2 separate regions of the Homo sapiens genome follow, and region 2 is linked to region 1. Evidence: fine-mapped QTL for protein levels in blood plasma. A gene starts in region 1. The other region holds a variant in brackets. All regions are shown on one strand. Distances are from middle to middle.

The links. PIP is the chance, under the fine-mapping model, that this variant and not a neighbour inherited with it causes the effect. Protein levels are from the aptamer-based SomaScan assay of Sun 2018.
Region 2: its variant is fine-mapped to the plasma level of the DPT protein (Sun 2018, PIP 0.95).

What each region holds. Positions count from the first base shown.
Region 1 is chr1:168,720,719-168,737,374 of GRCh38, reverse strand. It overlaps DPT (dermatopontin), which reads left to right and starts at 8,169. Exons shown (of 4, transcript NM_001937.5): 1 at 8,169-8,505. The coding sequence starts at 8,201.
Region 2 is chr1:168,700,363-168,717,018 of GRCh38, reverse strand. DPT (dermatopontin) reads left to right here. Exons shown (of 4, transcript NM_001937.5): 2 at 2,673-2,798; 3 at 15,895-16,002. Among named protein-coding and RNA genes, the nearest start is that of DPT, 21 kb to the left of the region's middle. The variant C/GC (reference allele first, on the strand shown) is at 6,708.

The DNA.
Region 1 (16,656 bases):
TTACACTTCGGGATGCATAAAAGTCATGTGGGAAAGCTCGTTAAAAAGGCAGATTCCGCCTGGGCGCAGTGGCTCATGCCTGTAATCCCAGCACTTTGGGAGGCCAAGGCAGGCAGATCATGAGGTCAAGAGATGAAGACCATCCTGGCCAACATGGTGAAACCTCATCTCTACTAAAAATGCAAGAATTAGCTGGGCATGGTGGCGCGCCTGTAGTCCCAGCTACTCGGGAGGCTGAGGCAGGAGAATTGCCTGAACTGGGAGGCGGAGGTTGCAGTGAGCCGAGATCACGCCACTGCACTCCAGCCTGGTGACAGAGCAAGACTCCGTCTAAAAAAAAATGGCAGCTTCCGGGACCCCACCTCCAGGATTCCACTGAAGCAAGGCTGTCAAAAACTCAGGAATCTTCCTCTAACATGCCTCCATGGCTGTGATGCAGGTGGTCTGTGGACCTCACATGTATCAATACTTTGGGGTGGGTGTGTGTTTTTAGAGCTGGGAGAGACAGTATGCTTCTTAGGTGACCAAGTCCATTATCTGAAGTTGATGTACCGTGATTGAACAATGCCGAAAAGAGGTGCCAATCTGTAGCTTCAGGAATGGGAGCAAGAATGCGTGAATCTTGGTTAAAGAGCAAGCCGAGCTTGATCAGAGGAAGCAGCACACAGAAAACGCACTGGAGGACGGCACCAGCAGAGATGTCCTGTATGGGAGGATGTTATTTTCAGGGAGGCTGCTCCTCCTGCTAAAGCCCTGCCCCCACCACCTGCCTTCAGGATTGTAGGAGGGAAAGGCTTGGACAAACTGTGTGAACTGGCAAAGTGCTCTAGAATTGGCCACCTTGCTTCCCTAAAGGATGTGTCACCAAATCCCTCAATGCCGTGTCCTCCAAGAGAACTGGCAGGGCTCAAACTAGGGAACTTTGGCTTATGCCCAAGCCCTGTCACCCAATATTTCTGTAACTTTGGACATCACTGTACCTCTCAAAGCCTCTATTTCCAAACTGATAAAATGGAAATAAGAAAGCCAACTTTACTACCATCACCAATGCAAAGATGAACTGAGATCTGTTAAATCCCTGCACATGGAAAAGAATAAATATTTATTGAGTGCTGGATTGTGTGGTTTATATACATCGTGCCAAATGCTACACAAATGAAAGGGGCTGTTATTTATTTTATAAACTTTAGGTTTACCCACTTAAAAACCCAATTTCAAATTAGAAAATTTGGCTTAAAATGACATCACTTAAGCACTTTCTGATTAAATTGTTTTCTTTCTTTTCCCCCGTTTGTAACCAAATCTCTCCAATGAACCTCCTCCCGCGCTTTTTTTTAACCATGGTCTCTAGCGAGTCATGAGCTCAGAGGTTGTAACCAGTATCCTGAACTCTGTTCCTCCACTTATGAGCATATAATACATTTACTAAAGCAATATTTCCAGCACCTACACATACATCTCTGTGCTTCATTCATCCTCACAGACCCCAGAACACTAATTAGGCACTTGGGCCCTGAAGCTTCCTTCTGTGAGTGTCTCAGAGCTAACTTGGCTTAGCAGCACCCCATCCCCATCCCCATCCCTACTCTCACCCCAAGACACAGTCCTGGTTCCCAAGCTCGCAAGTTCCCAAGCTTCTTCTCCACCACGATAGCTCCTCCATCTGCCTACTGTTCCCAAGCCTCCTGAATTCTCTACCCTCACTCTGCCTTTAGTGCTCAGCCCTGTTATCCTGACACCTCTCCCTGCAAACTCACTCTCAGGAACCTCTGCGATTGACATTCATCCACATATTAATGGAACTCCAGAGAGTGGTGGAGCCATATTCCCCCAGCTTTACTCATTCCCAAACCCCTCCAGTCATCATCTGCACAAGAACACTCTTCTGCCCTGCGGAGTCCTGGGGCTGTTCATTACACTAATATGCATGATTGTTCCCTCAACTCCAGCTTCTAGTGTTACCCTGAGGTCAGACTAACAACGTACATTTGTTTCAAGCTTTACACTTGACAAAGTCTTTGCAAGACCACTATTTGATATGACTGTCACAATAATCTCGTGGTAAGTGGCTGGTGTTGTGATTATCCTCCATTTTACAGATGATAAAACAAAGGTTATGGGTTTTGTCTGATTCAGTGGTTCTCAACCAGAGATGATTTTTCCCTCCAGGAGACATTTAGCAATGTCTGGAACATTTTTGATTGTCACAGTGGTGGAAGAGAAGATGCTACTGGCATCTAGTGGATAGAGGCCAGGGATGCTGTCCAACATCCTATAATACACAGGGCAGCCAGCCTCCACAACAAAAAACTATCTGACCCAAATCAAAAGGTCATTTTGATTACTTGCAGAACCAGAACTTTAACTTAGATATTTGGATTTTAGGAGTCTCTGCTCTTCTCACAACCATCTGCCACTGCTCTGAGGCCCTGCTGTGACCATTTGGCACTTGGGGTAGTATAGTTACTAACAAATTCAAGTCACCTTTCTGTACTAGCTGTGAAAATTGGGGTGAGCTACCAGTGATCTCTGAACCTAATTTTCTTAGAACTGCTGGAAGGTCAATTGGTCTATCATATGTAAAGCACATAGTACAGTATTTAGCACACAGTAGGTGCACCTTATTCTACTCCTCCCAATCTTCTCTATTTCCTCAACTTGGATTGTCACTCTTTCTCCTGCTGCTTCCAGTATGAGCATTTTTAACCTTATTGGTGGCCCTCGGGGCTAACCCCAAATGATATGACAGTGGGTTCCACAAATGATCTTAAAAAGCAATGGGTCATGCAAGGGTGGCAAGTTTGCTGAAGGTGAGGACAGCCTGGGTGTACTGAGGCTATTGAATGCCTCTCTCAGCTAAACCGTGAAACTGGCACAGACTCATTTTGGAGGAAAGCCACGGATGGCTCAGCATACACTTGCTGGGAAGTTTGTGATAGTACTCTGGCCACCTAGAGCTGCAGCCAAGTCCTGATTATACACAGGAGTTAAAAGGGAAAAAAGACAGCAGGCAAAATGGAATCCTCCAATAACTCACAGTCAATATTTTGGGTTAAGCATCCATTCATCTGGGGCTACCAGCTTCACCCAGGCACTAGCATGAGCCTTGCCTTCTCCTGTCTGAGCAGCCCTCCTCGGGGCCAGCACGTCACATCTGGAATTCTCCAGTGGATCAGGTCTGCTCCAGGGTGACCTCTGTAAGTCTACATCATTCCCTCCCAATATACAATAGCAGCTACCCCAATCCAGAAAGTGTAAAAGTAACTTAGGAATGAGTTGATTCTAGGGCCATTCTAGGTGCTCTCAATTAAAATCGGGCAAAGTATTATATTCAGAATCTCTCAAAAAGGGATTATATGTTTGAGAAAGCTGCCAGACAGGAGTGGATCCAGGTCGCAAAAAGTGTCACCAGAGTGGCTATGAGTTCCTACACCTTTCAGAAGAACCCAGACTTAATAAGCGTTGGTGAGGATGTGGAGAAGAAATTGGAGCTCTCATACGCTGCTGGTAAGAATGTAAAATGGCACGATTGCTTTGGAAAACAGTTTGGCAGGTCATTAAAAGATTAAACACAAAATTACCGTATAACCCAGCAATTCCACTCCTGAGTATATACCTGAGAGAAATGAAAACATATGTCCACACATATACTTCTACATACATGTTTGTAGCAACACTGTTCATAATAGCCAAAAAGTGGAAACAACTCAAATGTCCATCAACTTGTAAATGGATAAATAATATATGGTAGATGTATACTGTAGAGTATTATCTGGCATTATAAAGAAATGAACTAGTGATACATGCTGCAAAATGGATGAACCTTATGAACCGCTAACATAAAACCTATGCTAAATGAAAGAACCTATTCATGAAAGACCACATATTGAATGATTCTATTCATACGAAATATCCAGAACAGACAAATCCATAGAGACACAAAGTAGATTGATTGTTGCCTAGGGCTAAAGGATGAAGGGAAATGGAGAGCGACTACTGATGTGTTCAGGGTTTCTTGGGTGGTTAAAATATTCTAAAATTGCTTGCGGTGGTGGTTGCATAAACTCTGTGAACATACTAATTTAAGGGATATATTGAATTATATACCTTAAGTGGTGAATTGTATGGTATGTTAATTATATCTCAATACAGCCGAAGAAGGAGGAGGATAAGGAGAGAGAAAAGAAGAATAAGAGGTAGAAGAAAAAGAAGAATCATGGAGACTTTTGAATGCTCTTTGTCAGAATCTCCAAAATATCTCAAGTCCATTATCTACTAGGAGGTAAGATAGCCCAGTGGTGAATTGTGTGGGCGCCAGAATCAAAATTAGTGAACTGAGTTATCTAGGCTTCAGTATCACTACATAACTTCTCGAGAAGTGACACCTGGAATTTGGGTAGAGTGTTCTGCATTATCTGCTATACGGTAATTCTCACTTTAGTGAGTATCAAGTTACCTAAAGGGCTTGTTCAAACACACATTGCCGGGCTCTACTCCTACAGTGTCTGATTCAGTAGGTCTGAGAGGGGCCGGAGGATTTGCATTTCTAACAAGTTCCCAGGTGACGCTGATGCTGTTGGTTTTAGAGCAACACCCCAAAAACTACTTATTGAACATTTAGTTCTTTAAAGTCCCCAGGGTCTATTGAGTAGACTTTTCAAATAACAGCAGAAATGCGTAGCGCAAATTAGTTATATGTGTATGTTAATATACATACTTTATAAGTGCATTATTTGACAATTATTCATAAATGTTATAATTAGTAACTGTAACTTTGATGAAATGATGGAAGGCATTGCAGAATGGGAATCAGAAGACATGGGGTCATATCCTTCCAGTTCTAGAAATTTGGCCCAAAATGTTCTCTCACCACAGTTTCCCCATCTGTGAGAAACTAATTCCAATAATGCCTCACTAACATATAAAGTTATGAGGAAGATAACATAGTAACCTAGTTGAAAACACATGGTCAACTGTAAATGCATTAATCTTATGTTCTCAATGTCTGCGTATGGAAATCATTCTCTATGCGGCCACCAGAATCTCTCTCAAAGGCATCAGCAGTTTCTGGAATCTCCTGAGACACTGGATGAGTTAGGTTGCTTTCAGCTTTAAGTAACAGAAATCTATATTAAAACTGGACCATAGCATGAAGATATTTATTTTTGCACATTAAAGGGAATCCAGCTGAGGTAGTTCTAGCTGTAGTTGAAAGAAATCTGCGGAGAGTGGAGATCAGGCAGAGGCCCTGGAAATTGTTGGAAAACAAATGTATAATAAAGATGAGTGTTTATGATAATCTGCTTTGTCTCTTAGAGCTCTTTAAGGTTTAAAATAGCTCATATCATGTCCAGAATGCAAGATACAACTCATGAGCATCAGGATGATAAACTGAAAAAATTAAAAAAAAAAAAAAACCCTCTAGCATAGAGGTTCTCAACCCTGGCTTCCGGTGAGAAGCCTATAGGGAAGGTTTCAAAGGACGTCATTGTCAGGACCCTGCTCAGAAGCTTCTGATCTGATTGGTCCAGAAATTGCTTAGACTCTGGAGGTTTCCAAAAGCTTTCCAGGTAATCCTTAAATGCTGATAAGGTGGAGAATGATTGCTTCAGCATATCATGAATCAGAGAGATCCTTCTAAGCTAGGAAGAATTCCGATGCCAGCACTGGGCAGTTACTTACGGATGGAAGTGGTGGGAGAAGATGGTGCTAAAAACAAAACTAAGCCTCACATAGCTGTTCAGCCCAGATCCTCTCCCCCTCGCTTCAGTAACCATGATCATCAAAGAAAACTGCATGCCCAACACACACACAAACACACACACACACACACACACACACGAGTTACTTGTTGCTTTATTCTCATGTATGACTGTCTTTCCCTTTCAAGACTATCTTGGTGTTTGATCTAGACTGAATACCGTCTGGTAAATGTGCCACAGGCTAGGCAGATGGTGGGATTAATAGTGTGATTTTTCTCTGGCTCCACATTCCTTTAGGAAGGTGACTCTTAGCAATTGATGTGAATAAGAATCACCTGGAAAATTTTTTAAAATATAAATACCTGAGCACCCCTTGTGAGGTTATGATTTAGCAGGCCTGGAGAAGAGCCACTGTCTACATTTTAACAAACTTCACAGAGGCTGTAGATAGAATTGGTCTATGATCACAATTCTAAGAAACTTTAAGAACAATACTGATGAGAAATGGGAAATACTATGTGCTTAAGAGATGCCCAAAGGTTTCAAAAAATTTGAAAAGCCAAATCATCAACGGATGCATGGAATGGGTAATGAGCACATGAAAAGATGCTCAAAATCATGGATCATTAGAGAAATGAAAATCACAACCACACTGAAATATCACTACAAACCTATTTGAATAGCTAAAATTTTTTAATGGCAATTTTCTGGTAGTGGTGGGCAATGGTATCACCACTTTGGAAATCAGCTAGGTAGTTTCTTGCTTTCTTTTTTTTGTTTTTTTGAGACGGAGTCTCGCTCTGTAGCCCAGGCTGGAGTGCAGTGGCACAATCTCGGCTCACTGCAAGCTCCGCTTCTCGGGTTCACGCCATTCTCCTGTCTCAGCCTCCCGAGTAGCTGGGACTACAGGCGCCCGCCACTAAGCCTGGCTAATTTTTTGTATTTTTAGTAGAGGCGGGGTTTCACCATGTTAGCCAGGATGGTCTCGATCTCCTGACCTCGTGATCCGCCCGCCTCGGCCTCCTAAAGTGCTGGGATTACAAGCATGAGCCACCACACCCGGCCTCAGTAGTTTCTTTTAAAGTTAAACATACATTACCTTGTGAACCAGCAATCTCACTCCTAGGTATTGACCCAAATGAAATAAAAATTTGTTCACACAAAAACCTATACATAGATGTTTATATCAACTTTATAATTACATTTATGTAATTCATTATATAAAATATAATGAATATAAAATTCATTACATAAAAAGTAATGAATTTTCAAAAACTGGAAACAACCCAAATGTCTTTCAACTAGTAAATGTATAAACAATCTGTGGTACATCCATGCTATGGAATATTACTCAACAATAACAAGAAACAAAATACTAACACATACAATGAGATGTTGAATTTTAAAATGGATGAACCTTAAAAGCATTATGCTAAGTGAAAGATGGACATGAAAGGCTACGTGTGGTATGATTCCATTTACTTGACATTCTGGAAAAGGCAAAACCATAGAGACAGAAAGTAAATCAGTGGTTACCAATGGCTGGGTGTTTGGGAAGATTTGACTGCAAAGGGATATAAGGGGATGTTTTGGATTGATGGAACTGTTCTAAGTCTTGATTAGGGTGCTGGCTATGTTACTGTACATTATGTATTTTAAAAGGTGAATTAATTATATGTAAATTATAACTCAATGAAAAGAAAATTCAATGTGAGGGCAAAAATACTGAAGGATAAATAGGGGGTTTATTTAGATTAAACCCATTACATTTTGAGAGCAGAGCACACTTTCTAGACTTGACTGGGTCCAATTTCAGCAGCATGGTAGAATGCTTAAGTGTAGAAATCATATCCAACTTATCTCCCCATGGGCCCATAGTACTTCCTTATGCAACTTATGAGTTCTCAGAGTAGCCCTGCAAACTGGTATACCCGCGCTTATACTCAAGGGTTAAAAAGTGTTGGATTGACAACTTAAAAAAAAAAACAGGCATTCAGCCTTACAGAAATCCTAGATGGCTCTGTTACTTCAGTCTATGATTTCGGTATTTTGAAATCACTGTCTGGGTATTTGTGTGGCCCGGAAGGCTAGTTTGGAGAACAAATACAGGGGTTTGCTAGTAGCGGGTAGGGTAGGACAGAAAGGGGTGAGGTGCTGAAAGGTGAGGGACAAATATGCTACTAATCAGTGTTTTTCAAGTGAATATTTCTACAGGGTAGAGCAGCAGTTGGCTTTTATAATCTAGATACAAAGTTGTTCTTTCTCCAGGGAGCTTCTTAGACTTACATGCTGCTGGTATATTCCTAGAATTCCACCTTAAAACAAGCTGAATGTCCTTATGGCTGACATCTCAGCATGGAAAAGTTTTGCTTAAGCAATGACACACTGCAGTTGGATCCTTCTCACCCACATCTGGAAGCCACATGTCAGCGGCAGCTATATAAAACGGTCAGACCAGCAATCTTAGAGTGACATTGTTTGCCAAAATCCCAGGCAGCATGGACCTCAGTCTTCTCTGGGTACTTCTGCCCCTAGTCACCATGGCCTGGGGCCAGTATGGCGATTATGGATACCCATACCAGCAGTATCATGACTACAGCGATGATGGGTGGGTGAATTTGAACCGGCAAGGCTTCAGCTACCAGTGTCCCCAGGGGCAGGTGATAGTGGCCGTGAGGAGCATCTTCAGCAAGAAGGAAGGTTCTGACAGACAATGGAACTACGCCTGCATGCCCACGCCACAGAGCCTCGGGGAACCCACGGAGTGCTGGTGGGAGGAGATCAACAGGGCTGGCATGGAATGGTAAGGGCCAGTCCCTGCACTGCACTGGGGCTGGGAACATCTCTGCATATCCCTCCTCCTGGGGGCTGCTAGACTCTCAAGGAATATCAGTAACCAAAGCCTGGGCAAATCCCACCCCAAACCTCACCACTGCATGCTCTGGGTGGAGCAGGGCTGCTGCTGAGCGGACTACATGACAGGACAAAAACCTGGGATGGGGAGTGTCTGTGGGAGACAGACTCCTCTGTGGCTCTGTTCCTTCCAGAAGCTGTTCTACCTACTCTCAGTTTGGGCCAGGGGCTGGTGTAGGTCGGCGAGAAGCTTGCTTACCAGACTACCAAAAGATATGTACAGAAACTGAAAGTAATAAACTTTATAGAAATTAAAACTTTCTGTGCCATCGGAATGGCATTTTTCTTTTTTAGAAATTTATTTTTACCATTTTACAAAAGTACTGGCCCACAGTAGTTTGGGAACAAGAAAAATAAACAATTGATCTCTCAGCACGGAGGGTTTGAGAACTATTGATTTAGAGCAAGTGAATGGAAAAGAGGGGACAAGGACATTTAGGCAAAAGAAAGTGGAATTAAATAGCTGTCTACTGCCTTGATTAAATGTGCTCTCTCAATTATGAGTACTGAGGTCCTTCTCTCTGCCTGAATTTAAAGTGGGTTTTATTGCTGGAAAATAGTTTACTAAAGGGTTTTGGAGAGAGGTGCTGTCTTCCCCTGACTGCATTCTGCCTTAAGCAGTGGCATGGAATTTTTTCGAGCTTGTACTTTTTTGTGGGGTGTGATTGTCTCAGCTGGGTCTCAGCCCAGGTGCTTGGTCAGGAGCTCATCCTAGTAGGCACTGACTGCTAGGCTGATTATTTACAACAGCCTAGATGGAGCCAGCACTCTAGGAGGCTTGGAGGAGAGAACGGAGGAGGCAGTCCAGGGAGGAGGAAGCCCACCTGGAGGGCTGCTGCATGTGCTATCTGTAGAGCAACCCAGATGTGTGGCAACAAGTACTTAGTGTAGTGGGGATTGGAGGGGTCAAGCACAAAATCTGGCCAGGTGTGGTGGCTCACGCCTGTAATCCCAAACACTTTGGGAGGCTGGGGAGGGAGGATCACTTGAGATCAAGAGTTCGAGACCAGCCTAGGGAACACAGCCAGACCCTATCTCTACAGAAAAAAAAAAATTAGCCCGGTGTAGTTGCATGCAGCCTGTGGTCCCAGCTACTCAGGAGGCTAAGGTAGGAGGATCACTTGAGCCCAGGGAGTCGAGGCTGCAGTGAGCCATGCTCGCACCACTGTATTCCCTCCTGGGTGGCAGAGCAAGACTCTGCCTCAAAAAAAAAAAAAAAAGAAAATAGAAAAAAGAAAAAGCATAGAACCCTGGGGGACACAACCAGTAGAGAGGTGATGATGGGAAATCCAAGAGGAAGAAACACCGATGGGTGGGGGAGCCAGGAAAGAGAGCGGGCCTTTAAGTAATGACAACAGCTACCATTTATTGAGTGCTTACCCTGAGCAGGCTCCATGCTAAGTGCTTTATGTGGATCATCTCGTGTAATGCTCAAAACAAGGGTATATCCCATTTATAGGTAGACAAACTGCAGTCTAGAGATCCAGTATTTCCTCGGCTAGAAAGCTGGGGTTTGGATCCACAGAGTCTTTGCTTCAAAGAGTTTGTACTTTGCCACAGTGACGGGCTCCTGAGAGGCTGCTGCCTCCACCCAGAGTGGGCTCCCACCCGACAGCTGACTCTGTCAGCAGAGCCAGTGCCACAGGACCAGATTCAGGGCAGTTCTTCCTCCTGGAGAGGGTGGGGACCTGCAAGACCACAGCAGAAGCCCAGCCCCAGAGGGATGATCCCTACTTGGTTACCAGGACTGTGGAGGGGCTCAGCCGGACTGTAGAAGGGGTGGGGAGAGGACTCACACAGGCAGCAGCAGGTGAGGGTGCCGGGGCTGTGGAGGCTGCTTGGACAGCCTTTGTGGGCCATTCTCATCCACCCCCATGGCCTCTGGTGAGCAGATTTAGTTATTCAAAACCCCTTCTGACAGATGCTGATTCAGAGACCAGGCTCACCTTGATTGTTGTCTCCATGACTCCTCACAGCCAGGCCCACTGCCTAATGTGGAGCATGGCAATGACCTAATTACAACTGTCCCTCCAGTCCTCACCTCTCAGGAGCACTATCGCATGGGTGCGACTCCTTTCTAACAGCCGTTTTTTGTGCCACAGTCAAGCAGCACTCAGCCATGGTTCCCCAAGCCATAGAGGAAGAGCCCTAGGCTCTGAATCAGGAGGCCTGGGTCTGGATCCTGGTTCTAATGACTTGTGGTGTGACCTTGGCCCAGACGCTCAGCCCTCCAGTCTCCCGCCTCATTTGGAAAGTGAGCAGTCAGGCTGCATGATCTCTGAAGGCTCCACAGAGCTGTGGCTCACCCCTGAAAACACTCTTGGCTTTTTCTTGCATTCTGTTGATCTTTGTGTTCATCCCTGCTAGAGAGAGAAGCCAAATGATGTTTAGTTTTAAACTTGCCAACTGTGACTGGTTTGTCATGAACTCCCAAACTATTTGAAGAAAAGCAAAAGAGGAAGAAGGTGAAATAACATGATTTTATTTGGCCCATGGGAGTCAAGGGAAAAGCTGATAGGCGAGATACCTCTTCCACCTCCTCTTACTCGGCATTTTTGGGTGTGCAGTGTCTAGTAATTTTGGTTTCCTTTCCTCCTTCCACCCTCTGTTGCCTCCTTCTCCCCGTCTACTAATCACAGGGTTGAAAACTCACAAACATGCAAAACAACTTCTTTACAATAAGATCCAGCTGCCCCAGGACTGACACGAATTACCCTGGAAGCACTTTTAAAAATGATTATGCCTTTGAGTTCAGCCTCCAGTCTCAGTGAAAAATCTGTAAGGAAAGAAATTGCTTATGGGCTGGGGAGCTATTACATCTGACGTTGGCTACAGGCTTAGTCTGTTCTCAGGGAACAGTTGTTGATGGTTTTGTGCAGTTGGGCTGCCTTGTATAACCAAATTAGCTTTCAGGTTTATTTTAAAAGAGGGGAGGAGTCTCGAATATAGGCTTGACAATAGCACATAGGATCTGCTAAAAAGAAAATCTTTCTAATCAAAGTGCCATCTTTAAAAGGTGTTGCCATCATAGCTGAGTGGTCTGTGGTGCTGCCATTGATCACAGTTTCTCTGTTGAAAATCACCTCTTCAAGTGCCGGCTTCTGAAGTTTGGATGATGGTCTCTGGCACTAACAACTACCAGGAGGCCTTACCTGGGTCCCCATGAGTGGTATTTCACCATCCCAGGGCATGCCTAGGTTGTTCTCAGGGAATCTGCTCTAACTTGGGTCAGCACAGGCTGTAGGGCACTGGGTCCTGTGTGGAATAAGATGAAGGTGAAATTTTCTAGTGAGATTGAGCTACTGTGTAGCGGAAGGAGCCCTGGGCTTGGATGCAGGAAACCTGGATTCACAGCTCCTGCTTGTATCTGTGACATTCGGTATCTCATTCTGGCAAAAAAGAAAGAGAAGAAAGAAAGAAAGAGAGAGAGAGAAGGAAGGGAGGGAGGGAGGAAGGAAGGATTGAAGGAAGGAAGGAAAGAAGGAAGGAAGAAAGGAAGGGAAAGAGAAAGGAAAGGAAAGGAAAGGAAAGGAAAGGAAAGGAATGGAAAGGAAAGAAAAGCAAAGGAAGAAAAAGGAAGGTGTGACTCCCACCTCACAAGCTGCTACTTGTGTTACTGTGATACTTGTAGGATAAAGTATAAGAAAACTCTAAAGCAAATTGAAGTCTAAAACAAATGCCTAGCACATCATGGGCAGGTAGTAAAAGTTTAGTGAATCTGAAATTGATGTGGCTGATGTTGGGCAAGCCAGCTTTCCACGGAGTCTGAGTTCAGAGGAAAAGTGGTCCATTTATTGGTATCTACTTTTTACCCCGGGCTTCAAAGAATCTCAAGGAGAAGTTTTGGAGTGGCAGTTTGTGTTAGAGCTGAGTTTATGAATTCAATGACAAGCCACAGACTGGAGAAGAGGAGAAAGAATCTATGCAACAGGGCTATGGCAGCATCGAGGTGCATTTGAAGGTGGAGAGGTTGGGTGGGAACTCCGTTTTCCATGGTCGGACTATTTCCCTAATCTAAGCAAGACCAAGCCTCAGTGTAGTTCAGGGCAGTCGTCCTGAGTCATGGTTCTGAGTATTGAGTACTCACAGGGCCCACTTCCTCGGGGATGCTTTCCAAGACCACCTCCTCTCCCCACACATCTCGCTGTCTCCACTCCCTCAGCCTGCTTTGTTTCCTACAATGCCCTTGTCACTACCTGATTGGCATTTGTTTCTTGTTTTGTCTCCCTCACTAAAATATAAGCTTCATGAACACAGGGGCTTTGTCTCATTCACCACTGTATCCCCAGTGCCTAGACAAGTGCTGGTACATAACAGGCCCTCAATACATATGCAGTGAAAGACCAAATCAGCAGTCCAAACCCCAGCCAGTGTCCCCACGGCCCTCCGCAAGGAGGCCTGCAGGTTTTCCCACAGGGGAACCATTTTGCTTATGTCTTTGATTCCCAATATTCCAGTGTCTATAGTAGGGGTTCCAACTGTATTGTTCACATCTCATTTTGATTTATTGCATTTACCAACATGCAGGATGGTCTTTCAAGATTTCTTAAGGATCGCTAAAACATGCACAGAGGATGGCTGACACACTTTGCCGCCGCAGAATGAAGTTTTTATCAGGTTTTCATTCTCTCAATAATCTTAAGGTCTCGATCAATTTCAAAAATTGAAAGTAAACTCTTTATTTCAAAAGCCATAAGGGCTAAATGCTGCACAGTAACCTATCCTGGTTTGACATTTGTGGAAGAACTGATGAAATCAGTTTGGTGTTATACCAAGGTTAATTTCTTAGCATTTCTTAGCATTCCTAGACACTCTAGAGTTATGAAAATTAACATTAGAGGAACCTGGGTGAAGAGTATACATGAATTTTGTGTGCTGTCTTTACAAGCATTCTGTAAATCTGAAATTACTTCAAAATAAAATTTAAAAAAATAAATATAAGGATGCAGCACAAATATAGTACAACAGAATCGTGGAATTCCAGCACTGGAGGGGGTCTTGGGCACAATCTAGAGCAACCTCCTTACCTCACAGAATAGGAATAAAGGCCATGAGACTGAAGCAATTAAAAACTGAATAAAAACATTGCTGTCAGGTTAGGAACTGTCATCCTCTTTTTACAAAAGTAGATATAAATATCAGTAGAAGGGGAGAGATGGGTCATGGAGCAATTCTGTTTGGAATTAGGAGAGAAATCCATAACTTTACATAAGTATAGGTTCTATGGCCCTAACCCTGATCTACGTGGTGATTTATGATTTATAGAGTATTCCTCATTTATATGTTCATTTGTTTATTCATTCACTACCAAATGCTTATTAGCACAAACTTTCCCAGGCCCCAGGAAGATGGAGATGAATAACATACAGTCTATGCCCATGAGTTATTCAAAAGCTAATATTGTTTGATCTTCACAACAGTATTGGAATCCAGGTGTTTCACACATGAGGAGGTTGCCCTTGCATGGCTAGCAGATGGCAGACGGAGGACCTGAGCCAGCCAGCCTGATTCCACAGTGCTGTGGGTGATATGAAATGCTGATGTTATTTTTGTTCCTGGATAAAGCCATAGTGAGTGCTGACCTAAAAAAGATATCAAATCCACCTAAGGATGACTTCTGAGGGCAAGAAGGCTGAGTGTGGGAGAATAGGGTTATGACAGATCTAGGATTCTTGCCAACTTTCCATCTAGGTCACTCTCCTAAGTGCTAGGAATCAATTGTCTGGGGGAACTTGAGCTCTGCAAAAATGGTTGTTGGCTGCTCTTGTAAGGATGGCAAAAGCTCCCTCCTCCCAGGAGGGGATTTGCTTCTGTCTGGGAACCTGCAGGACACAATCTTCTCAATCAATAAGAGATTTCTGCAGAGTTAAGATATCGTGTGTGTGTGTGTGTGTGTGTGTGTGTGTGTGTTTCTTTGAGGGATCTTGAAGTATTGAAAAGTTAATGAAGTTTAGAGTCAGAACAATTCTCAAAATGCAGCCCCACTGACCCCACTACTACCTTTACTCAAGTCGTCTCAACTCCGAAATACTCAGCTTTCACAACTAAAACACACCTCCCTAGAACTGTTGTTGTGAGAATTAAATAAGATAATATATGTACATTAACTTGTGTCCTTAGGGGAATTACTTACCTTCTCTAAACCTAAGTTTCCTTATACGTAAAATGGTGATCGTGGTGAGAAGCTCATTATTTGAACCCATTTTATAGGATTGTTTTGATAATTAAAATAATTAATGCACGCATAGTGCTAAGCACAATGCCTGCACATTGCAAGTCCTTGATAAAGGTTATTTATTATTACTTTATCATGACTACTCTGTGTAAACTGAGACTCATGGAGACAAGTATCACACAGTTGGTAAATTACAAAGCTGGAGTTGAAAACCAAATTGCTAGATTACAGAGCCTCTGAAATATATCATTTTGCTTTTGGAACATATAATTTAATCACAGTCTATAAATATTATGTGTACATTATAAGTGTCTTGAATATTTATTACATTTTAATAGACACGGAGATAGCATTAGATCTCTTGTTTAAAAATATTATAATTGATATTCATAAACTCACGTCAAATTTACTGTGATGCTAATGTAGCTCATGCAATTCCTGTGTGACCTGGAATTGCTCTCAGGACATAAATGCATCTCACAAGATAATCTAGATCTTCTCAGAGGCCTTAGGGGAAGCCTCTCCTGCCTGTATTTTTCCAAAAAAACCTGAGGAATTTGTATTTTTGGAGGCATTCTCGCTCTGTCCTGTGCTAGGTCTTTCTATCCAGAGATGCTGTTCTGCAGGTCATTTCTGCTTCACTGTTAAAACCTTGTAGACAGACTAGCAGACTTAAAACCTGGACATGGAGAAGACAGCAGAATTCTTACCCAGATGCAGGCAGGAAGAGAGCAGAATGTGTGCAACTTAACACTATTTAAAGAGACTGTTCATATCCCCACCATGGTGGCAGGAGGATGAGCAGTAAACGGTGCAGTGTTCAAAAACTTTGCATTGTAGCCCCATGAGGCTACTCAGTGACAGTATGTGTTAGGTGAAATGTGTAATGGTGATATCAACATGTCACAAGGAAGGAAAGTTAGTATGATTTGGAATTGTCAAGAAAGGAAGGATCTTTGAAGGAGGAGAGGCTTGGTATTGCCTTTTGTGCTCTGATATGTGCTTTCTGAGGCTCCTCTCAGTGTCTAATTGGAGAAGTTCAATCCTGACAATTTCTAATGTAGGCTCCAATATTTACTGAAAGTGATGTTTCGTGACTAGGATGTAGCCTGTCTTTCTATCAGATTACAGGTACTTTTATCATCATGGTAGTAATAACTATGACTTCCCCTGCCTTTCAATTATATACGTTGTGCCAGGTTCTATGCTACACTTGATATATAGCATCTCTTTAGTTTTTGTGTAATACTGTCAGGTTAAGAACTGTCATCCTAGTTTTACAGAAGTAGGTATAAATATCAGCAGAAGGGGAGAGATGGGTCATGGAACAATTCTGTTTGGAATTAGCAGAGAAATCCAGAACTTTGAAGGCTTCTTTTACTGGGCAAACTTGCCCCCAACTGTGTTTGTCTCTGTCCCTTGCCACTTCACTGCTCCACTGTCCCCAACCACTCTCCTATTTCTCTGCTCCTCTGTCTTTGGTACCAGTCTACTTATTTCCAGTATCTGTATTATCATAGTGTCTGCTTATCAGTTACAGTGTCTGGTAATTCTGCCTGTCCAATGTCATAGTGTTTACTTATCAGTACCAGTCTTCTGAAGAGATTCCAGACCAAGTGCAGCATCAGGTATAGAGTAAGTTCTAGTGAATATTTGTCAAAAGACTTAATGAACATTCTAAAATTCTGTGGGCCTTTTTATAAATGCCTGATAGCAACTCAAAGAATTATTCTGGGGAAAATAGAATTAACAAAAATCAAAGCTTTACTCTAAAAGAAAGAAACTCTTTTGGTACTATTTAAGACCTCATCCACCTTTGGGGCGGGAAAGAAATTTGGGAGTGTTAAGGATGCTGTGCCACATGGA
Region 2 (16,656 bases), 20 kb after region 1:
AGGTATGTTTACTGCAGCACTATTTGCAATAACAAAGACATGGAACCAACCCAAATGCCCATCCGTGATAGACTGGATAAAGCAAATGTGGTACATATACACCATGGAATACTATGTAGCCATAAAAATGAATGAGATCATGTCCTTTGCAGGGACATGGATGAAGCTAGAAGCCATCATCCTCAGCAAACTAACACAGGAACAGAAAACCAAACAGTGAATGCTCTCACTCATAAGTGGAAGTTGAACAATGAGAACACATTGACACAGGGAGGGGAACAACACACACTGGGACCAGTCGGGGGTAGAGTGTGAGGAGAGGGAGAGCATTAGGACAAATAGCTAATGCATGCGGGCCTTAAAACCTAGATGACAGGTTGATAGGTGCAGCAAACCACAATGGCACACATATACCTATGTAATAAACCTGTACATTCTGTACTTGTATCCCGGAACTTAAAGTAAAATAAAAGAAAATTGTAAAACCTAGATACATGTATAATAAACTACACAGTTGCACATACCAAAAAAAAAAAGCTAGATCATCAAAGAGCCATAGGTCTCAATTTACACCTTAACCTGCATTACTGAGCCCCTATAGCTGAGTTTTCTAGTCTGCCAGAACTTCTTACAAGTCCTGGGAACAGGGAATTCAAGCTAATTTACATGGTTGACCGAATACCGAGCCCATCTCTCAATTCTTCTCACAACATAATAGCAAAGTGATTGATACAGAACAGTAGTAGAGTATGAGATGTTTAATAAATGAATGAATAAATAAATAAATAAATAAATGCATATTTGAATTATATACATTAGGTGAATAAATGAATAACAAGTAATAAATAATAAATTTAAAAGGACGGATGATTTCTGATGACAGACAAGTAATATATTTAATATCTAATTTTGTTAGATCTGCAAGTTCATTTTCAGCAATGGAAAAGAATAAATGAAATCCACTTGTTGATAATGTTACAATTTGTGTGTCAACAAGGCCTCTCTCACCAGTCAGCACACGGTACTTACTTTATGCATTATATTTTCTGAAAACTTATCTTCCCATGAAATACAAGGTTGCATTCCAGCAGCTGTCTGGCCATGCACATAGACAACTGCCTGCTCTGGCTCTGCCCACTCATAAGAGGGGATAGACCAATGGCTGGGATGGTGGGAAATGCAAAGAAGGAGAGGTAACTGAAGAACTATTTTGGAAGGGTTTGTGAAAGAGCTCATGCTATAAGGTGGAAATCCACTGGATTTCATCAAAGGGCCATGGCTCACCATACCCATCTGGGCTTTGCATGCTGTGTGGGGGCAGAACAAATGATCATCCTTGTGCTCAATTTCCAGGGCTCTGCTGTTAAGCAGAAGAAATGTTTATTTGAAATTCGTCAATACATTGTGCTTCTCTTTGTCTTCTTTTTATTTTAAATTCCAGTAAAATGAATTATAATATCTTTTATTTTAAATGACATGCATAATACAATCTTGAATTTGTAAAATTCTAGATGTAAAATTCTAGATCCTGGATAAGTAGCAAGAACAGTGGAAATGCCCTGACTGTGTAGAGCTTATGGTCTTGTGGGTGGTGGAAAGATTCCTGGATAAGTAGCAAGAACAGTGGAAATCCACTGTGGTCAGGTAGAAAATAGTGTTATCATCACAGCAAAAAGTGGGAAGCCTGAAGACGCCATAGGAATTGGGCCCAGGAATGGGAGAAAATCATACTAGAGATGGAACAAAGGAAGAAATGATTGTACTATTCTAAGTCAATGTTTAGTTCAAAAGGTGCTGTGAAGACCAGCAGCAGCACAGGTAGAATGAAAGAGCAAAAATTATTTCTTGTCTGTGGACTGGAGTGGAGCGGTTATATATTTGAAGAATTAGGACTAAGCAGCTAGGACAGGAAAGGGATCTTTAGAGGGGGTTTGAGGCATTCAGTTGGCCTGTTGCAACTCTGTAAGGACTGCCTCCACAGCCAGGATTCTTGGTGGCCACCAGGAATAGAATTCTGAGAAAAACATGCCATGGCTGTGTAGAGCTTATGGTCTTGTGGGTGGTAGAAAGATTCCTGGATAAGTAGGAAGAATCTGGGTTGTGGTCCCAGCTTTCCTACTGGGCTGCCCTGGGCACATTCACCATGCCCATCTGGGCTTTGCATGCTGTGCAGGGGCAGAACGAATGATCATCCTTGTGCTCAATTTCCAGGGCTCTTCTCTTAGGCAGAAGAAATGTTTATTTGAAATTCATCAATACGTTGTGCTTCTCTTTGTCTTCTTTTTATTTTAAATTCCAGTAAAATGAATTATAATACCTTTTATTTTAAATGGCATGAATAATACAATCTCGAATTTGTAAAATTCTAGATGTAAAATTCTAGATCCACCCATTTATGCAGGCTTCCATCTAACAATATATATTGAAAGAGGTATGACAGGGGCAGTGTTCCCTAAATTTTGTTCAGTTAGAAAATTCTGAGTCACTTAAATTTTAATGGAGGGGCTATGTTATTTCTACAAATATAATAAAGACTATTATTTGCATAAAATGGAATAAATTGTTAAGAATCTAGGTCAGAGAAAGAGTGTGTAACTGTGGCAGTGGGGTCTTGGGAAGGGGTCTGTGTATGTGTCACTGTTCTTAGGTTCCTGGGGTTGTCTTCTCTTCAGGTACCAGACGTGCTCCAACAATGGGCTGGTGGCAGGATTCCAGAGCCGCTACTTCGAGTCAGTGCTGGATCGGGAGTGGCAGTTTTACTGTTGTCGCTACAGCAAGAGGTGCCCATATTCCTGCTGGTGAGTCTGGCAGCCGACCAAACCCTCATGACTCCTGGGGTGGGAGAGGCACCTAGGAAGTGCTCTAGCTTCAGGTAAGCTTGAGGGTCACACACAAGCCTGGAAGGCAGCGCTGGCATATAGACAAGAATGAATGAATGACTTAGGAGGATGTTCCCGCCAAGAGGGATCTTTCAGGTTATCCAACCCCCCACATCCTTCTTTTGGCAGAAAAGGAAACAGAACCATAGAGCCGGCACTGACTGGCCCAAAGTCACCCACCTACTCTGTGGGAATGCCAAGTCTTAAGCTTAGGCCTAATGACTCCCATCCCAGTGCTGTTCTCCTTCTCCCCAACTTCTGGTAACTTCTCATCATATCCAAGGCTGCAGGGCCTATTTGGGAACCTAGTTTCCTGTAGTCTTTCTCTGGGAGAAACCAATCCTCTCATGGGTCAGAGTCTAGTACATAGTTATAGACAGAAAAAATAAAATATTAAAAAATTAAAAAATTAAAAAAAAAGATTGTGCTGTTTTCTGGATCCATTTGGAATTCCAGCCTCTGATGTTTTGTTTCTTTCCCTATCCCTGGGCTCATGCCGAATATCTCCTGACCTAGCCTTCCAATTGACTAGGAGAATGTGTATATTGTCATTTGCCCTGATGACTTACACTGGGTGTTGATAACACAACCGGCCCAGGTTTTTTTAATCTGAAAATGAGCCAGGCATTTCTGCCTTGGGCAAGGGGATCCAGAAGTGTCAACATGTGAAGGTTGGCTCCCTCAAGTGATTGATCTCTCTACAGTTTGATGCTTGCAAGGACAGCTTCACAGGTCATGCTTATTCTCTGCAATCAGACAGCTTACTCCACAGATGCCCAGTGGCACACAGTATCTCTAGGGATACAAAGCCCCAAAAGCTTAACGTTTTTCTTTTTAAAGTAAGGACCGATAGTAAATTCAGAGCTCAAAGTCACCTGTCACTGTATGATGGAGCAGAAACCTCCTCTAGTTCTTCAAAATCGCTTCCATAAAGCAGCTTTTACTCCTCTACAGTGGGTGAACAGGCCTGGCAAAGGATTACGATGCCACTGGGATAGGTCCTGAACCAAAGACCTAAAGATCTCTTGCAGTGGAGGAGGTAGAAGGAGCACCAGTTTGGGCAAAAAGAAACTTGAGTTTCAGTCTCTGTGTTGGCCTTTCCTCACTTCCCTCCCTTCTTTCCCCTTTCCCCTTCTCCCCTCCCTCTCATAACTCTGCAGGCTCAAGCACATCACCTAAAATGATGACCACCTTTTTTGAGTCTCCAAGATCTTTAAGACTCTGATGAAAACTATAGACCTTGTCTTCAGGGGGGAAAATGCACTTAGCATGTTAATACAATAGTTTGCAGAGAATTTCGGGAGTCCTTAAACTCCCTGAAGGCCATTCATGAACACACTGCCAAGAACCCCTGGATCATAAGTTGAAATTCCAAGGACTAGAAGATCTTTCAGGTTGTGTTGAACCCTAAAAATGTCTTAATTCCAAAGACACTTTTGGAAAAGATGATCCAGATGCCAGAACTGTTTTGAGAGGATGAAGGAAGTTCCAAAGACGAGTGCGCCCTAATGAAAGGGGAGAGTAGGTAGGAGCTTGGCCTCCACAAATCTCTCATTCCTGGTCTATTAACAGAATGGCACTTCCCACAAGGAAACCAGCCTCCCTTTGTTGCAAAGCATTAAAAGCCAGTTAAAATGTATGTAAATTACCTGAAAGAGCAAGCAAAACCTAATACTCAGTCAGTGAATTTATTTACTACATTAGTATAACTTTCCCTGAATCAGACTCCAAAGGAACACATCAGGGCTGGGGTATGCTGGGTGGCCAGGAGGAGTGGGTTCAGGAGCAGGGGAAAGAGTGAGGAGGTGAGGAGGTAGCCCTGCACGGGCTGCAGTGGGGAGGAAGGGGAACATGGACAGCCTAGGGGCAGCTGGAGGCCTGGATGTTGGTGGCTCTGTCTCTCTGCCCTTCGTAGATGCCTCTGTCACAGCACTTTATGCATTTTACCACCTGTGTACAGTTGCTCCTCTCTACCTGGACTTCCAGTGTCTGGAGGATATGGGGCCACTCACTGATCTTTGTATTTTCAATGCCCAGTATAGTGCTTGGAACATAGTGTCTTCTTAACAACTGTTGAACAAATATCCACATTAATAATTGTGGAGGGTGTATATAATGTGAAGTGGCCCAGAAAATATAATTCTCTTACATAAAATTTTTTGTTCTCTCCCCCATCCCTCCACTTCTGCCCAGAATATAAGCTCTACACAAGCAGAGATCTTTGTGCTGACATATGCCAAGCCCTATAAATAATGACAGGCACATAACATTTGTTTGGATGAAGGAATGACTTCAGGCTACTTTTTGTTATGAGCATTAAATAAGATAATATATTTCTGGCCTTGCCACTGTCTATGATCACACAGAGCTGACCTGTCTTGAAACAGAGTCCCCTTCACCCTCCCAGATGCAGGAGAGACCCAGCCTCCTCACCAACTAACAGGACATTCAAAGGCAAACTCTGCCCAGGAACAACCTAGCAGGTGTCAGGTCATTGCAGGAAGCAGAACTTGAGAGCGGGGTTGGTTATGCAGAGGAACAAGACATGTGACCAGTTGGACAGTCTGTTGTTAGATGTACTAACTCATTCTTCCCCAGGCAGAGAGGAGTAAGCTGAGGCAGCAACATTCCTCATCACAGCAAGGCTCGAGGTCTCTGCAGAGATGAGTGGGAGAGCCTGCTGTGTCTGTGGCCATGCCATCATGGTTGGCTGGCCCCTGCCCAAACAGAACAACAACAGATAGTGGGCTTGGGCCTCAAGGCTTTGGGTGACCAGGCAGGCAAGGAGCTAAGGCTCACTGGTTTTAGAAAATTTGTCAAGGCCGGGCATGGTGGCTCACACTTGTAATCCCAGCACTTTGGGAGGCCGAAGTGGGCAGATCACAAGGTCAGGAGATCGAGACCATGCTGGCTAACATGATGAAACCCCGTTCTCTACTAAAAATACAAAAAAAAAAAAAAATTAGCCAGGCTTGGTGGCAGGCACCTGTAGTCCCTGCTACTCAGGAGGCTGAGGCAGGAGAATGGCATGAACCCAGGAGGTGGAGCTCGCAGTGAGCCGAGATCACGCCACTGCACTCCAGCCTGGGCGACAGAGCAAGACTCTGACTCAAAAAAAAAGAAGAAGAAGAAAAAAAAAAGCAAAGTTGTCAAACAGAAGAAATAGGGGGTGGATGAAGGTAAGTGTGAGAGAAAGGGATAAACATCTAAATTTTCCTGGAATTCCCATATTCCGTGGATCTGTGGGATCTGTGTTAACACTCTGAGCATTGCTTCTTGAAGCTTATCCTGTCTGTTTATTTGAATGCTGAGACCTGAAAAAGACAGGTCTTTGTGTTTCCAGTTCCACCGTTGTTTTAATGATGCCCCAGATTTCCAGTGGTCACCTGGAGACTGGTTCCAGGATACTTCTGCTTCCCCAAGAATGCTAGGTATCGTTCCTCTCACATACTTTAGAAAGGCTTCTCAAGCTCCCTTAGATGCAATTCACCAGCTAAGATGCTAAAAATGTAATGATCATATAGACATATATGTAGGAACAAAGTCTCAATGTTAAAGATTGATAGATAAAGATGAGCAATTTTGAGTTGCCAGAGATATTCATGTCTCTGCTCACAAAGTTTACCCAAAGCCTTGATCTGCAATGACTTTGCCACTCTGAACCCACCCCAACCCCCATACCCTTTACCCTTCCTTACCCCATCCTACCATCCAGACATGTTGCTGTTGGTCTGTGGAGCCAAAAGGTGGGGAAAGTACAGAGAATTAATCCAAAAGGCATGACAAGTCAACTTTGAAACAAGTCCCACTAAGGTGTGGTTCCACCTG[C/GC]TGGTTCTATTTCTGAAGGCATGGTGTTAGAGCTGAGAGCTATCACGGTCACCAAATAAAATGGTATTTTTTCAAAGAAAACATTGGAGAAGCAGCAGAACAAGATTCAAGTGTGCACCATGGTACACAGTGTATGACTCACTATCCCGCTGGTGTGTCTAGACATTTTAGTGGCATCTTTAAATTGCCTGAGTCATGATGTTGTATTATATGTCTTTCTAAATGCCTCCAGGGCATAAATTAGGTCTTATTTTTTCAACATCTCCAGGATATTACCCAGCACAAAATAGACTCTTAATAAATGTGTCAGATGAATAACTGAATGTTGCAAGCCCCTAGGAACAGTAACAATGGTGAAACCTGACATTGATGTGATGATGTTTTATAGTTGACAAAGACTTCTTTCATGTACATTATTTTATTTGATCCTTTTAACAGCCTTACAGAGTGAAGTGAGAACTCTTTTTCCTGCACCTTCCCACAGTGAAATGCTGATAACCCTCTTATCTGAAACCTTCCCTTACATGACTTTAATTAGCTTGAATTACCTCCCAGGGAACTGGACCCATGTGGGTGGGAACGACATTTTTCCCCTTCCCTCTTTGAAAGGCATTCTTCAGCACGCAGCCTGACACCGTATGAACTAGCTAAGTGAATATCTAGCGCCTGCGTTTGTGAGCACTTAGGGATTCAGAAATATCATCACTCTGGGCTGGAAAAAACAAATCATCCAACCAACTCCCAAATGAGTATGAGATTTATTTGTTTGGTGGGAACCAAGGTGCTGCTCTCGTTTCAGCTTGTGCGGTTTCTCTTTGGATATTACAGCCTCACTGGACTCTGGCAAGAAAGCAAATTCCTGAGAGATGTGGACATGCCATTAGGAAATGGTCTCCACTGGATTGGATGAATAGTGAATTTTATAGATATTTATTTAGATATGAAAATTCTAATTCTTAGTCTAGTGGTCTGCAAACCACAAACACATGTCACTGAAGTTGCCACAACCCTTTAGACATTGTTTGTCATAATCTCTCTTCTCCAAACAGCTCAGCAGCTGCAGGCTGCACACCAGACTGTCTACTGTCCAGGCGGAGACTCTGTGTCCCAGGATCTGATGGTTGTGAATCATTTTCTTTTCCAAATGGCTCTTCTCCAGACCCATGGCCTTTCATTAGGTTCATTGGATAATATCTTTTGACTGTAAAATAATGCATCCATTTAGGTAACCTTTACTTTTCTCTTCAACCCTGATATTCTGTCTCTCAGACTTTGCATTCTCCACTGCCTACTTCCCCACTCTCTGTGTGCAAGTCATAAGCCAGAGAGTGCTTTTTTTAAATTCCTGTATAGCTCTAGTTAACATCAGTTGATTAGAACATTCTTATCTCTCCCACCCCAAAGCACCCAGTCAAAGCTAATCTTTAATTCTTAGCCTCTTTGTTCAGATGTTAATACAAGATAGGGAGTGTTTGCATGTTCACTCCTGTAATGCTGTTTTAGGGACATGAACAATCTCACAGGCCTCTGCATTGCTGTGCCTGTCATATGCCACCTGTGCCCAGACAGCCTCCTGCAATTCAGCTCCCAGAGGCCTGGTAAGAAGAGCAGCTTCCATTAGGTATATCTCCTAATGTTAGTTAACAGGTGCAGCACACCAACCTGGCGCATGTATACATATGTAACAAACTGCACATTGTGCACATGTACCCTAGAACTTAAAGTAAAATAAAAAAATAAAAATGAAGAGCAGCTTCCATACTGGTCCTCTGCGCAAGCTGGAAGCTATTACTATAGAGATGGACATACTTAAGTTTTGAGGAAATTGGACTAGATGTCTCAATTTAAAGGAACTTATATTGGGTTTAGATGCTCTGCGCCCTACTAAAACCATTGCCTTCCATTGCATGATGTACATAGCACTCATTGTGCAGACAGCAGCCTCTCTGAACTTGAGCAAAATCTATCATCCCTTTCATCTGCTGGAATGGTTTCCATAATTATTGTGCCATATTTAAAATGTAGACATGTACAATTGGCACTCCATATCTGGGGTTCCCTATCCAAGAATTCAACCAACTTTGAATCAAAAATATTCAGAAAAAAACAATAAAAATAAAAATAACAATACAACAATAAAAAATGATACAAATACAAAACCATATAGTATAATAACTACTCACATAGCATTTGCATTATCTTAGGTATTATACGTAATCTAGAGGTGATTTAAAGTAAACAGGAGGATATTCATAGGTTATGTGCAAATGCTACACCATTTTAGATCAAGGACTTGAGTTTCTGAAAATTTTGGTATCCATGGGGGTCCTGGAATCAATCCCCTGCAGATGCCACTGATGACTGTTGTATTAGTCCATTCTCACACTGCTAATAAAGACATACCCGAGACTGGGTAACTTAACAAAGGAAACAGTTTAATTGACTCACAGTTCCACAGGGCTGGGGAGGCCTCAGGAAACTTACAACCATGGCAGAAGGAGAAGCAAACATGTCCTTCACATGATGGCAGGAAAAAATGCCAAGCAAAAGGGGGAAAAGCCCCTTATAAAACCATCAGATCTCGTGAGAACTCACTCACGATCATGAGAACAGCATGAGAGTGACCGTCCTCTTGATTAAATTACTTCCCACTGGGTCTCTTCCATGACATGTGGGGATTATGGAAACCACAATTCAAGGTGACATTTGGTTGGGGACACAGAGCCAAACCATATCGACTGTATTTGGTGCCTGCATTATAGGTGATACCTCTCTCCTTATGTTCAAACTTCAAAAGCAGAAATATCATAGATGTGTCTGGCTAAGTATTGGTTAACCCAAGGCCAGCTACTTAGAACAAAGTAAACCTCTCAGTTACAAACCAAATCTGATGCTTTATTCTATCTAGTCTGCTTCCCTCTACTATAATAGATTCTAGAGGCAATCATTCTTACTTCTATTTATTAATTCACTTAAGCAGTCAATGAATGTGAATGGATATGAAATAATAACAATTCATAGGCTTTGGGTGAGACCCTACTAATGATAATGATGATAATAATAATATTTATTTATTGACACTTACCACGTGTTCCTGTGTTACTGCATTTAATCCTCACACACAAAAATTATGATACTATCATACAGATGAGGGAACTGAGCTATAGAAGTTGTGGCTCCCTTCAAAGTTCCAAACTTGACTCAACCAGTCTATCTGCCTCCAAATCCCATGCTCTTTGCATAGTACTGAGCTGTCTCTAGATGAGGAATAAGACTTCTACAGGTGAAATATTACATAATAGCACAGTAGGCATCTGGTAGAAAACAGAGAATAAAACTATTTTAATTGGAGGGGAGCTGTTGAAGGTCAAGTAGCCCCCACTGACATGCAGGCCCAGGGTGACCACCACATAATGTGGCTAATGAAAATCAACACGAGTCAAAGTGAATGTGCTTACTGACTAGCCCTGGGCTTGGACAGTGAGTTAGAAACTCAGTTCCAAGAGAGCAATTTGGAAAGTGTTCAGGGACTTTCCTCTACTCATTTAAGCTACAGATATCCCTGGAACTGTTATTCCCTCGTGTTGTGATACATGTCTGAAATGTTTGAAATGTAAAGTCCCAAAATGCCATAAAAGGACAGACATGGACATTTGTTTTTATTTCACACACCTCAGAGCCCCTGGGTTCAGATTTTCTGTGCAGAGAAGGGCACTTGGGTGACTACCAGAGGTCCCGCTTGGCCAATCCCCAGCTCTTGTGGGAAGAAGCCTGGGGATTGTTCTCTGTGGCTGTTTTCCTTTACACATAACTCCATTTGGGGTTTATTTTTTCTGTCTTTACAAAACTAATTCAAAGGGGGTCTGATGTAGCTCCTAATAAAGACAAACTAAATTAATCTGAAATATGTTCATTCCTTATAGCTTACTTGGAAAAGCATTATGCAAGAGGATTGATCATGAACAGACTGGCTTTATTTAACAAACTTCTCAATGATTTGACTGTCAGAAAGGGACATCTTTTTAGCTGAATATATAAAACGTAAGCCAACCTCAACACACCAAATCCGCAAATGTTGAGTTTCTCCTCCAAACCCACCTCTGAACCAGATCATAAAAGCATATTTGATTCCATGCACCAGTGATCCCTCAAAGAGCTCACTATATTGGCCATCATGATGTTATACAGTATTCTATTATCTTGCTAAATATATAGTGCTGATGTATTAGTCCATTTTCATGTTGCTGATAAAGACATACCCGAGACTGGGCAATTTACAAAAGAAAGAGGTTTAATGGAGAACTCACAGTTCCATGGCTGAGGAAGCCTCACAATCATGGTGGAAGGCAAGGAGGAGCAAGCCACATCTTATGTGGATGGCAGCAGGCAGAAAGAGAGCTTGTGCAGGGAAACTCTCATTTTTAAAACCATCAGCTCTCATGTGACTTATTCACTAGTATGAGAACAACACAGGAAAGACCTGCCCAAAGGTTCAATTACCTCCCACTGGATCCCTCTCACAACATCTGAGAATTCAAAATGAGATTTGGGTGAGACACAGCCAAACTGTATCAGCTGACATGTCACAGGACATTTGAATGGGATATTTAAAGTAATGTGCTAATTGAGTGGTAGAGAAATAGAAGAAAAACAGAATTCAATATTGAATGACCAACAGAAGCTTCTCTAAAATGTTGTTTGAGCATAAGCTGGGCTATAAAAGATCATTTGGAAGACATTCTAATTTTATTCTTATTTTTTAAAAAGCTGAAGTATGGCTTCCTCAGGTACCCGTTCTGATCTGTTCATATGTAAATGCTGGGGTTTTTTTCCAGTTTTTATGGTAGGGAGTCTGTGGTGTGTGCTTTTCTGGTGTCCCCACAAAGTGGGCCAAGGTTGGGGATATGATGTTTCCTGACCATGAGATGAAGCTGTATCTGTTCATGTGCACATCAATTGGAGGGAAAGTCCTGAAAGAGGAGCTTCCAGGTGACACCGACTAATCCAGTTGCCCTAATTTCCCCAAGTGAAACAGCTGTAACAAACACATCTCAGTGCTATGAAGTTTGACTTTCATAGAAGAAAAGTGTCTAGCTCCGAATAAGGTCTCGTAGAGGTGGGTTTTCACAAAACCTTACGCTGAGTCACTTTATGTCAAGGAATAGATTGAAAATCTTTACTTTAACTATTAAAAACCTAATAAGTTCTCAACCCAACCTCTGACAATGAATAAAATTGGCCACTGTATATAACTAGATTGTATCTCTATTTCCCTTTCTAAAATGGATGTGAGAGCGTATACCTGGACTCAGCTCTGCAATATGTCTGTTCTTGTGGCAACGGAGCCGAGACATCTATCAGCAGCAGCTCAGTCTATGATATTGTATCATAGCAAACATTCATTGAGTCCAGTTGGATCTGTTAATAATTTTAGAGCTTCAAGAATCTTAGATGAGAAAAATCCTATATCAATCTTAAAATTGTCTTCAGTTCGAACTGATTTCCCTCAGCTCATAAGTAAAATATTATTAATTTTTTTACCATCAGCTTCAGCTGACACAAGAGTTGTGCAAGTGGCTTTATGTTATCAAGTTTTTTCTTAGCTTTGGAACAACTCTCTGTCTTTCATCTTGACAGCAGAAAAAGTGCTGTGAAGTGAGAAACTGTACCACAAGAGTCATTCATCTGAAAGTGCGCATGCACACACACACACACACCCCACACACACACCAGTAGTTTTGCTTTTTTTGTTGTTGTTGTTGTTTGAGACGGAGTCTCGCTCTGTCGCCCGGGCTGGAGTGCAGTGGCGCGATCTCAGCTCACTGCAAGCTCCGCCTCCCGGGTTCACGCCATTCTCCTGCACAGCAGTAGTTTTTATTAAAAATTAAGTAATAGCTAAAATTGAATAAATCTATTCAAACACTTTACTTTAGGGGAAAGGAGAAAATAAGGCTTCCCATAGAAATGTTTGAAAAGTAGACTCATTTCAATAAAGGCATCTTCCTGACCTGCGCTCTTCTTCATCTTGCCAAGCTGAAGGTTTGTTTGATTGTTTTAATTGGTCTAGGAATGTATGGCAATGCTCAGTATGAAGTGTGTTTTTCCAAAAAACTGCTTAAAGTGACCTAGTAATTCACAAGGAATTCACAAGGAAGCTGCAACCACACCGAACTCTTCCCCGACCTACACTCGCAAAGCCCAGTGTCACAGCTTAGGAAACCCTGATCATTCTGCTTCCTTGTAGCCTCTTTTAATTTCCTGAAAAGTCCCTATGCCCTGTCTCAGTGTCTAGTTCTGAACGTTTAAATTCTTTTTTCTCTCTAAGGAGCTATTACTGGGCTTTCACTTATTAGGACACTTTGTGCGCGTGTGTGTGTGTGCGCGTGCACATGCAGTGTCATCAAGCGCTAAATGCAGCCACATATATCTGGTTTGAAAATACAGAACACAGCATCCTGGGCCACATTGACTCAATAGTTCTTCCTATGGATGGTGTTTGGGAGGTTCACTTTCTACCAGTGATTTGGGTCATTTCTCCCTTGGTATTTTTATTTCATAAAGTAGGAGAGATTTCCATCGATATCCAACCTCCTTCCCTCTCCTCCTTTACCCAGGTTTCTCTAGGACAGTCTAAACTCAATCCCATGGTGTTATAACAAAAACAAGACAAAATAACAACAACCAAAAGTCACACAAAACAAAACCTGTCTGGGACCAAGAAGAAAAAGTACCAATGGTCATGCACCTCACCTTCTCTAGGACATTCTAGAAATTCACTGGACATCAGTACCTCATGGAGAGGCTTCTCGGACAAACTGTCCAGTTAGACAGGGGGCTTATGTCTGGTCACTACCAAAAATGAAGCAACAGAGAATCCTAATTAAAGAAAGCATGAAATAACATTTTCCTTCTTTGAAGCTTAAAACTTCTTGATGTTTTTAAAGGTAAGCTTTTCTTTCCCACTTTATTCCGTGATATTTATCCAAGTATCTGAAGACAGATCAGAGTGGTCAGTAAAAACTTAAAAAATAAAAATCTAGCTTCATAATTTCCAAATACTTTTGGCAATTGGATTTAGCTTAATGCAGTGTTGCTGTATGTAGATTCTGCCTTAGCAAAAAAAAGAAAAAACACACAACTTGGTAATTAATTTTTACACATTGTATCCAGAGATGCTTCAAAAGTTTTAGAAAATATTTTTTGTTCCCTGAAGTAAGGAAAACACACACCCCCTCCCACCCCCATGCAACCTCTTATTCTAATTTGCATTATTGATGTTCTCAACAAACCTCTCTTTCCTTGGGTTAACTTTAATACAGTCCTTGTTAGAATTCTCATGGATCATAAATCAGTGGGATCCAAGTAAGGCCCTATTAGTTCTACTTATAAGACATTTACCATGCTGGGCGCAGTGGCTCATACATGTAATCCCGGCACTTTGGGAGGCTGAGGCGGGTGGATCACTTAAGGTCAGGAGTTCCAGACCAGCCTGGCCAACATGGTGAAACCCCGTCCCTATTAAAAATACAAAAATTAGCTGGGTGTGGTGGCACACACCTGTAATCCCAGCTACCTGGGACACTGAGGCAGGAGAATCACTTGAACCCAGGAGGCGGAAGTTGCAGTGAGCCGAGATTGCACCAGTGTGCAACAGCCTGGGTGACAGAGTGAGACTTGGTCTCAAAAAAAAAAAAAAAAAGACATTTACCTGAAAGGTAAAGTCCTGCTTCTGGATCTCTTTAGAAGCACAAAATAAGTTTCTGGATTTGCAGGACCTTATTTCCCTTCATGAACTCGTTAAGCAAAAACACAGGTACCTCACTTTGGGTTGGACTTGGCATCCTGATAGAGCATAATTACGTCTTAGGAAAAGTCAAATCAGAGAACAAGGGTTAGTGAATAATGGGTAAAAGGAATGATTATGAACCAAGAGAATGAGCTAACCATTGATCTTTCTCCATCTGTGCACTGAGATCCTCCTAGGAGCCCTTACAGTTTATAAATCAATCTTTTCATGATTTAATGACAATCTTGGAGAAAGATCACCATCAGTCTGCAGAGGAGAAGATCTTTCTAGCATTAATAAACAGTGATCTGGTAAACCCAAATCAGATGAAATTATTGACACTCACAAACTAGTTGTTTTCCAAGCGTCCCTGGGGTGTGGATAAAGACTTTGGAGGAGCTATTTCATGGTAAAAGGACTGTTTTGGTCCTGAAGGTTCCAGTGGCAAAGCCCTTATGAGAACTGGGGGATTCTAGACTTTATTCCAGGATGGACTACCATGGACCTACTCATATGAAGGCTCAGGATTTACTCAATATTGGAAGAGAAGGAAAGGAAAGGAGGAAGAGGAAGAAGAAACAAAATAGTTCTTAGTGATTCAACACCTACCATGTACTAGTATAGCACACTCATCACTCATTTTTATTAGTTCCAATGACAAACCTATAAGGTAGACTTTATTCTTCTACAGATCAGAAAACAGATTCATTGACTTTCCCCAGGCCATATATTTATTCAGCTAATATTTATTATGTATGTGTTTTAGGTGCTGGATGAACAATGGTGGACAAGGCAAAAACTCTACCTTTGGGGAGCTTACATTTTAATTAAATAATTTTTGAACACTTTGTTGACTATAACTCACAATAAGAAACATTAAACTATCGCAATATGTACATCTTATAAACAAACACACATATATATTTGAAACAAAATGTTTACATACATAGACTCGTCCTTACTGCATGTGATGCATGCTTTTATATTTTCTTTTCTATTTTATGTCTCTTTTAAAGCCAATTAAATTGATTTTGTTATCAACTAATGAATCATAATCTAAAATTTGAAAACATTGTCTTAGTTGACTTGAATAGAATAGGAATAGTATTGATATTAATCAATATCAAGAATTCCAAAGTTATTTTGATAATTCCAAAGCCTGGGGAGGTATCTTCATCTTTTTCAGTGCACAGTTTAATGGCCTAGAAAAGGAAGATGAGAAGTGGGAGGAGAGCTGTCTGTTTCTTCACAGCCTGGAGTTGTTTGGTGGATGTCATTTAACTTCAGTCTGGATTTGCCAGGATGCTCAAACTCCATCTCTTCTTCATAGTGTGTCTTCTGTTTGCTCCCAGCAATAATAATGTGTTTCATTTTCCTCTAACCTTTGTTCTTCCTGCATAGGCTAACAACAGAATATCCAGGTCACTATGGTGAGGAAATGGACATGATTTCCTACAATTATGATTACTATATCCGAGGAGCAACAACCACTTTCTCTGCAGTGGAAAGGTGAGAAAGACAGCCCCTTCCCAATGGGCTAGGGTTAAAGGAGTTGGGACTAACTCCCTGCAAGGATTTTACCTGCAGGAATTTATAAACACACACACACACACACACCCACACACACACACACACGTAGAATACAAGTGAAAATTTCTTACATGCACATATATTTCTGCAGGAACTTTGACCTGAGGTTTTACTTATCTTAGTTTCCTACCTGGTCAAGGATTAACTGCAGTTTTGGCTGGAAAATGGGAGGCAGTGGGAAGTGAGCTGTTCTCATGAGCTCACCTCATGGAGCTGCTCACCTTGCAAGTGAGGGTGGATTCCAGCCTGCTCAAGAGCAGAGAGTCCTAAACTCGGTATCCCTTGATGGTCTAAGCTTTTCCCCTCACTCAATTTCAAAGAGCACTTTTCCTCATGAAACACCAAGAGGAGAAGGCAAATATGCTTAGAGGAGTGCCCATTGTCAAAATGGACCCCCTTCCACCCCGTGCCTCTATATCATCCCCACTTTGGGTTTTAGGAAAGAAGAGAGAAGAGAAAGAAAAGGGATTGGAGATAAGAAACACACAGAACCTACTGTCTTAGTCTGGGCTGCTATACCACATTACCTTAGACTGGGTAACTTACGAACAATAGAAATTTATTTTCACAGTT